3 separate regions of the Homo sapiens genome follow, and regions 1 and 2 are each linked to region 3. The links come from fine-mapping of genetic effects on gene expression. A gene starts in region 3. Each other region holds a variant in brackets. All regions are shown on one strand. Distances are from middle to middle.

Region 1 (2,838 bases), 22 kb before region 3:
TCCATGAGCTGATGTCAGCCCCCTTACCGCTGCTGCCCCGGGACTCCAGCGTGAGGAGGGCACTGCCAACCTCCATGTCATACAAGACGGTGTCGCCAGAGCGGAAGGAGGCCACGATGTGGGCAGGCTCGGTGCTGGTGAAGGCCACTGAGGTGGGGACCCCGTGCTCTGAGGGCACAGGGAAGAGAAGGCTGCTGAATGGACCCTCAGACCCAGCCCTGCCCCAGGGTGGGGGACAGTGGGTGGGAGGCCTGGGGCCTCAGCAGGAACCACTCTGATAGCCTCCAGATCCCGCACAGCTCCAGGGTGAGGCACCGGGGCCCCCACTCACCGCTGGCTGTGGGGAAGGTGCAGAGGCAGGCCGGGCTGCTGCTGCTGGGGTCCCAGATGCGGACGGTGCCATCAGCAGAACAGGAGGCCAGGCGCTGGGAGGTGGGACTGAAGGCCAGGCCCCACACGGCGTCCCCGTGGCCCTCCAGGACGTGGCTCAGCACGCTTGGGTCTGCACCCACCGCAGGGAGGAAATGGGCTGTGTCAGGGCTGCCAGCTCCTCCCTGGACAGCCCAGAGCCCCAGCTCTGCCAAGCCCCAGGCAGCTGGGCTCCAATCACCCACGCACCCACTTCACACCTGGTGCCCCTCGGAACTGTCCACTGCCAGGACAGCCCGGCAGCTGCTCACACTGCCCACTAGCTCTCCAAGGAAGGTTCTAGGGCTCCAGAAGGCAGGGATTTCCCTCTATTCACAGCTGTCTCCCCAAGCAGGGCCCAGAAACTGGGAGCTCAATACAGAATTTTTCGGGCTCCATTAAGGAAGAAGGAACAGCATGGTTCTGTGGCCCCAGGAGCGGCACGCAGCCTGTGCTGGACAAGGGTTGGTCCCAACCCTGGCCCGAGCAGTCTTTTCAGCCCATGGCCAAGTGCATGGGCTTTGCCTGGTCTCTCCAAAGCCCCCTGGTCATTCAGAGGTCCAATCACTGCTTCCCTGGTTGCTGGAGTCCACACCAGCAGCTCTGGCCTGCTGACACCGAAAGTGTGGTGGCTAATGTAGCTGGGACCGATCCTGACCTTGTGCAGGTGAGCCTGTTCTCTAAAGTCTGTCCTCCCCTTGAGAGGAGACAAAGACCTCTGAACTCTGCCCAGACAAGGTGGAGCACAGGGCCAGGTGCATGATCAAGGAGGCAGAGCCGGGCGCAGTGGCTCATGCCTGCAATCCCAGCACTTTGGGAGGCCAAGGTGGGTGGATCACCTGAGGTCCGGAGTTCAAGACCAGCCTGGTCAACGTGGTGCAACCCTGTCTCTACCAAAAATACAAAAAATAGCTGGATATGGTGGTGCGTGCCTGTAATCCCAGCTACTCGGGAGGCTGAGGCACGAGAATCACTTGAACCCAGGAGGTAGAGGTTGCAGTAAGCCAAGATCACGCCACTGCATTCCAGCCTGGGTGACAGAGTGAGACTCTTTGTCTCAAAAAAAAAAAAAAAAAAAAAAAAAAGGCAGAGAACAGGGGGACAGATGTTGAACAGAAGTGACAGTCTGGTCACTTCCCTACTTAGGTCTTAGATGCTCCAAAGAGAAAGCCCCAACGCGCTCCAGCCTGGCCCAGCTAACTCCACCTTCTCTGCTTTCTCTGGACATGCCCTCCCCTCAACCACGCAGAGACCCTGGCGGATCCCCACACACAGAGTACACGGCATGGCAGAGCAGAGGCTGCCAGGGCCAGCCAC[G/A]CCTGTGCATGGGCTGCTCCCAGCCTGGGCTGCCTCAGCACTGCCTTCTGGACGCCGGCTCACAGAGATTCTCAGGCAGCTTCACCACCTCCTCCCACAGCCATCATTCCCATCCCGGCTGGCTCGTCCCTTGGCCACGCGCTGCATCGCGCTGCTCACAACAGAGCAGACAGGGGAGCCGTCACACGCACTCCTGAGGCCTGCAGTGTTGGCAAGAGGTGGACGCGACGTGTGTGTGCGTGGAGGGGACGGCCAGGCCCCAGTGGATGTGAGGGGAAGGCGGGAGGCGTTGTCCTCACCGTAGCCATCATAGGGATCCATGCTGAGGTCTGGAATCTTCCAACTATGGATGCAGGCATCTGCCCCGCCACTGTAGCAGTATTCACTGTTGCTGCCCATAGCCACAGCCAACACTGGGCCCCTGGAAGGGACAAATATGTGGAAAGGGGGATGAGACAAGCTCAGGGCCTCCCCTGGCCACAGGACCTAAGTTCCCTACTAGCATTCTTCAAGGATGGCCAAAAGGAATTCAGTGACTGGGGCTCTGGCCATGCTACCTGGACAAGCTGCCTGTCCCCTGCCCTCCCCCACCCCACCTCCATCTCCTCCCCTGAAGGGCTGTGCTGAGTACCAGCTGCCAGGGCATGTGAAAGTCAGCATGGAGCCCCAAGAACCAGGGCTGTGTATATCATGAAGGGGGCGGGGACTCAGAGCCCCCTGCTGTCCTGCCTCCTGCCGTGGGCCTCCCGCGATGGCAGTGAGCAGGTCAGGAGTCAGGCTGCATTTAGGACGAGTTTCTAGCAGGCTCAGGGGCACCTCCCTACCTGTGAGCCCGGAAAGCATGTATAGGTTCCACATCTAGCGCCGCATTCCTGTGGGATGACAGAGGAGCCTGATGTCACTGAGACCCTGTCACCCCCGTCCCCAGATGCCCCTGCCCCCGGCTCTGAGCTTGCTGCCCTCACTTCTTGGCCGTGACCGCCTTCTGCAGGTTCCAGAGCTTGAGCGTGCCGTCCTCGGAGGCGGTGAGCAGAGCCGACTGGCTGTGGTGGAAGGCCAGGGAACGAATGCCGTCGTAGTGCGAGCGCAGGGTGAACTTGGGGTTCCACGTCT
Region 2 (2,500 bases), 37 kb after region 3:
ACTGAGGGCCTGTCCTTGGCACCACTGGGACCCAGCAGAGACAAGGCAGCCCTCAGACCCCTTCCTCCCAAGGCTCCCAGTCCAGGTCCAGGGGAAATATATTAGTCGTCAGGGATGGCCCAGAGTAGGTGGGGCTGGAATAAGGGAGTCCAGGGGAGTGTGGGAACCAAGAGAGGGCAGTGCCAGCTTGGGGAGTAGGGGGCAGTCAGGGGGGACTTCCTGGAGGAAGGAGCATCTGAGCTGAGACCTGGAGGACAAGAGGAGTGAACCAGGTAAAGAAGGGTGGTAGAAAGATCTACAGAGAGGAAGCAGAATGTGCAACAGCCTAGAAATGAGTGCAACTTGGGCATTCAAAGAAGAGCCATAATCTACTGTGGCTAGAGTAGAATAATCTGGGCAGGGTCACTAGTTAAGGATGGGCAGCCAGGCGGGCTGGCAGGGGTTTGACCTCACAGGGAGCCCTTGGTCATAGACTGTAGCAAGGAGACTGGACTTTCTCCTGAAGGCACTGAGGCACATGGCAGGGCTCTGGGTACTGCAGAGATAGGGTCACATTTGTGTTTTGAAAAGATCCTCGGGCGGAGCACGGTGGCTCACGCCTGTAATCACAGCACTTTGGGAGGCTAAGGTGGGCAGATCACCTGAGGTGGGGAGTTCCAGACCACACTGACCAACATGGAGAAACCCCATCTCTACTAAAAATACAAAATTAGCCGGGCATGGTGGCACATGCCTGTAATCCCAGCTACTCAGGAGGCTGAGGCAAGAGAATAATCACTTGAACCCGGGAGGCGGAGGTTGCAGTGAACCGAGATCACGCCATTGCATTCCAGCCTGGACAACAAGTACAAAATTCTGTCTCAAAAAAAAAAAAAAAAAAGAAAGAAAGAAAAGAAAAGATACTCAGGGCCAGGAGCAGTGCCTCACGCCTGTAATCCCAGCACTTTGCGAGGCGGCCAAGGTGGGCAGATCACTTGAGCCCGAGAGTGCAAGACCAGCCTGGGCAACATGGCAAAACTCAGTCTCTATAAAAGATACAGAAATTAGCCAGGTGTGTTATAGTCACAGCTACTGGGAAGGCTGAGGTGAGAAGGATCACTTGAGCCCAGGAGGTGGAGACTGCAGTGAGCTGTGATCGTGCCACCGTACTCCAGCCTGAATGATGGAGAGAGATCCTGTGTCAGAAAAACAACAACAAAAACCTCTGGCTGGCTGCCAGTTTGAGCAGGTTGAGGGTGGATGGAAGGGGGCAGGGAGAGGGCAGCATGGAATGGGGTTGGGGGGTGAGGGAGAAAGGAAGAGCCTGG[G/A]CACCTGGGGTGGGAAAAGAGGGGACAAAGTAGAGACCTATCCAGAAGGCAGAAAAGACAGAAATTGGGGAAGGACTGCAGAGTGTCAATCAAATTCCACAGCAAAGACTAAGGCAGAAATAAAACCAAAAAATTATAGCAATAGGCAAAGAGGTAGAGCCCCCGCTGCCTCCCACTGCTCTCACCTTCACCCTGGTTCCGGTGATATTCCTCTCTTCATAGGTGGTAGAGTACTGTAGGTGGGGTTGGGAAGAGTCAGTGTCCATCGTTACCAGGGCCTCCCAACCCCATGCCAAGCTAACAATGCTCAAAGCCTGCCCTTCCACATCCTTTCAATGTGATCTCATTTCATCTGCTGGCAACCCCATGGGGCAGGATGATCAATACCCCCATTTTCCAGAGGTGGAAAACCGAGGCTCAGAGAGGTAAACACATTTACCCAGAGTCACACAGCTAGAATTAAAACTCACAGGAGGCTCTGAGCCCGTATTCTCATTGACATGCATTTTTCCAGGAACTAACCAAAATCAGGTAGCAAGGGCTCCCCCTGGCTGGCATCCCTCCCTGTCCACCCCCATCCCCTCAGGACACCCCTGAGGACTCACTGAGCGAAAGGCTGCTGACACCAGGTTGGAAGGGAAGATATTTCTGCAGAGACAGACACACAGAGGGTTATTAGATACCATAGTGGGAGGGCAGCATTGTCTGAGAGGCTGGGTTGGCGTTTTAAGGCAGCGAGTGGAAGCTTTGGGGGCCCGCCTGCACGCAAATACAGCCCCTACTCATGCCTCAGCCCGGCAGGGTTGGAACTAGGCTTGCACCCCTTTGCAGGACTTGGGGAGTCAGCCTCCTTCAGCCCCAAGAGGCTGGCGTGCTAGCCCTGAGGCATTGTGGGTTCGGGGTGAGGAATGCTGGCCTCCCACGGCAGGCCAGGGCAGGTCGCCCCGGGCCTCAGCTCCACCCCATGCAGCAAACTTAATACCCTGGACAGCTTGCATCAGCCACTTCCTCCTGGAGGGCCTGCCAGCGGCTCTGAGAGTATGGGGGAGGATCTGGGTGTGTTGGGAGGCGGTGGCGGGGAGGGAGAAAAGGGACGGCTTCATATCTCATGAATATGCATCTGTGTTTACAAGGCTACCCTTACTCTTGTGTGACAGTGTCTGCCTTAAGATGAAAATAGTAGCTAAGGCCAA
Region 3 (2,793 bases):
AAGCTACCCCAAAAACCACGGGGTCTTTTCCCAAGACTTCCACAAACATATCCCCTTCCCCCCAACCCCAGTCTACCCCCGTTCCGAGATGCCTCCTCATGTTGCCTTCGGGCTCTACAAAATTCTCCCCCCTAAAGCATCACCCCAGGGTAACCCCTAACTCGTCCTCATTGGCACCATCCCAGGACCCTCACCTCCATACTGGACATGCCCAACACCCCACACTCCAGTTCAGGGCTCTCTACCTACATCCTACAACACACGTGCCATCTCAGTGCCATCGCGCCCACTCCTGCACACCCCCAAAGTGGAACTTCCACTCTTAAGCTCTCCCATCCAGGCTCCTAGGGTACATTCCCTGCTCTGTCCACACTTCCACTCCAAAGAACCCTTCCCTGCACTGTGCAGCCACACATGCCCGGGATCCCCAAAGTTTCTCCTCAGAGGGGAAGGCACACACCTTCATCCTGGACCCCTTGAAACCCTCCTCCCACCCCTCGGGTCCTTACACAGCCCTCCTTCCGTGCCCACCGTCCAGTCGCCCCGAAACACACCGATCCCAGGTTCCCGACTTCCTCTCCCTAAATCCTCCCGGTTCCCCATCTGGACCCGCTCTTTCCCAGCGGGTCCCAAGTTCCCCCCTTGGACGCTCCCACCTCCAACCTGCACCTGGCTAGGGCCATGGTCGGGGTCGGGGTCGGGAGTCCCTCGGCGCCCGGCAAGCTTCTGCTTACTCCCACAGGAGACCACTCAGGTCTCCCAGACCCCTCCAGCTCCTCTCCACACCCTTTCCCGAGTTCTCTTAGCCTCCCCTCCAGGGCTCGAGTCGCCTCTCTCAGGAGCCCCGCGGCCAGCGTGCTCAGTCCCAGTCCCAGTCCCACTCCCAGCTGGTTGTGGTCCCTCCGCCCCTTTCTCTCGGCCGGTCCCGGTGATCCCTCCCACCCCCGGTCCCTCCACTCCCACCTCGGGCCGTCCCGGTCCCGTCCCACCCCGGAGTGCCCTCAGGACACCCCTCGGACGGCCCCTCACTCGCCCTCCGGGACCGTCGCGGTCCCCTCCCGCCCCCCCGCCGGCCGTCCCGGCGGCCATTGCTCCAAGATGGCGGCGGCGGCGGCAGCGGGTGAGGCCGGGCCGGGCCGGGCCGGGTTGGGGGTCGGGGGTCCCGGGACAGCGCTCACCTGTAACTCGGCGCGCTCGGCCTCCCAGCGGGCTTTCTCGGCTTCGAAGCGCGCCCACTCGTGCTGGATAAAGTGCAGGATCCCCGGCAGGCTCAGGGGCTCCGGGCCCGCCGTGGGCCCGGGGCTGCCTCCGCCGCCGCCTCCCTTACCTGCCGGGCCCGGCCCGGGGGCAGGGGCGGAGACCGGGGCCGCCCCAGTGGGGCCAGGGCCCGCGCCTGAGCCGAGCGGACGGCAGGAGGAGGCGGCGGCGGCGACCGCGGCGGCCGCTCGCTCCTCCATCATGGAGGCCCCGGGGCCGGCCTGCGCGCCCGCTGTGCCTCGCGCGCCTGCGCGGCCGCGCCAACACCCCCCCCCCTCCCCCGCCGCAACCACCGCGCGCGCGCCCGGCGGGGGACAGTAGGAAGGGGGGCCGGCGGCGAGCGCGAGCCTCGCCCACCCGGGTCTACACCGAAGGGTAGCGTGCCCGCGCGGGGGCCGGCGGGTGGGAGATCGCGCCCCGAGGAGGGCGAGGGAGACCCAGGCCCCGCGCGACGGTCCCCCTCGCTGGAGTGAGACTGAGGAAGGGGCCGCTTTCTGCCCCCCTCCTCCCACTTCGCCCCAGAGAAAGAGCCTTACCCCTTCCACACCCAAACACCACTCTCCTGGACAATTACTTTTACTCTGAGAGAAAGGGCGACCAGCAGTGGCCCCATCCTCTCTGATTGCCGGCCAGGTTGGTTGTCATGGTAACCCTTCCCCAGCGGTGGGGGCGAGGTGGTGGGGAGCAGCCTTCCCCTCGCTTCCACCTTTGTGGTTATGGAGCCCCAAACCTCTTAGGACTCTGCACCAGGAGAAGGTTGCTAAGGTAACCTAAGTGTCCGTGGTGGTCCTTCTGCTCCTATCCTCATTGATTACTATGGCAACCTCCCCCCCACCTAGCATTCAGGTAGAAAGGACCCCAGCCCCAAGGACACTGATCTCTAAGAGAAGCACCTCTTCCCCAGCCCCTCCCCCATAGCCACCTAGTTGGCATTACCATGGTAACCGTCTTCCCCTTCCCATCGTGGGAGGCCCATGCACCAAACTAACCAGGTGTTTTTATTTAGAGGAGATGCTCTGCTGAGGGGCAGTTGCTATGGTTACAGGGCCTGGACCTTCCTCCGGAAGGTGAGAAACAGGCAAGTTCAAGGCCTGGTTACTATGATAATAGAGCAGCCCCCTTCGAGTGACCCTAGGAACCAAGCCCAACAAAGGAGGGGATTTTTTTTTTTTTTTTTTTTTTTGAGACAGAGTGTAACTCTTGTTGCCCAGGCTGGGATGCAATGGCCCAATCTCGGCTCACCACAACCTCCGCCTCCCCGGTTCAAGCCGTTCTCCTGCCTCACCCTCCCAAGTAGCTGGGATTACAGGCATGCGCCACCACGCCCGGCTAATTTTTTTTTTATTTTTAGTAAAGACGGGGTTTCTCCATGTTGGTCACGCTGGTCTTGAACTCCCGACCTCAGGTGATCTGCCTCAGGCCCGCCTCGGCCTCCCAAAGTGCTGGGATTACAGGTGTGAGCCATCACGCCCGGCCAGGGGATGTTTTAAGAATGTCTCTCAGAGGTAGAGTGTGTCTATGGAAGGGGTTGTCATG

Evidence for each region. PIP is the estimated chance that this variant, and not a neighbour inherited with it, causes the effect.
Region 1: its variant is fine-mapped to the expression of STRN4 in whole blood (TOPMed, PIP above 0.99).
Region 2: its variant is fine-mapped to the expression of STRN4 in prefrontal cortex (GTEx, PIP 0.93).

The regions. Positions count from the first base shown.
Region 1 is chr19:46,722,783-46,725,620 of GRCh38, forward strand. STRN4 (striatin 4) reads right to left here. Exons shown (of 18, transcript NM_013403.3): 10 at 2,691-2,838; 11 at 2,550-2,597; 12 at 2,025-2,146; 13 at 332-502; 14 at 28-168. Among named protein-coding and RNA genes, the nearest start is that of PRKD2, 7.1 kb to the left of the region's middle. RefSeq lists an enhancer at 2,563-2,838. The variant G/A (reference allele first, on the strand shown) is at 1,726.
Region 2 is chr19:46,782,605-46,785,104 of GRCh38, forward strand. SLC1A5 (solute carrier family 1 member 5) reads right to left here. Exons shown (of 8, transcript NM_005628.3): 2 at 1,913-1,955; 3 at 1,493-1,540. Among named protein-coding and RNA genes, the nearest start is that of SLC1A5, 4.7 kb to the right of the region's middle. RefSeq lists enhancers at 1,364-2,500, 2,046-2,500, 2,064-2,403. The variant G/A (reference allele first, on the strand shown) is at 1,308.
Region 3 is chr19:46,744,971-46,747,763 of GRCh38, forward strand. STRN4 (striatin 4) reads right to left here and starts at 1,480. Exons shown (of 18, transcript NM_013403.3): 1 at 1,179-1,480. The coding sequence starts at 1,460. It overlaps FKRP (fukutin related protein), which reads left to right and starts at 1,087. Exons shown (of 4, transcript NM_024301.5): 1 at 1,087-1,120. RefSeq lists silencers at 1,026-1,255, 1,466-1,515, 1,526-1,675, 1,716-1,815, 1,856-1,905.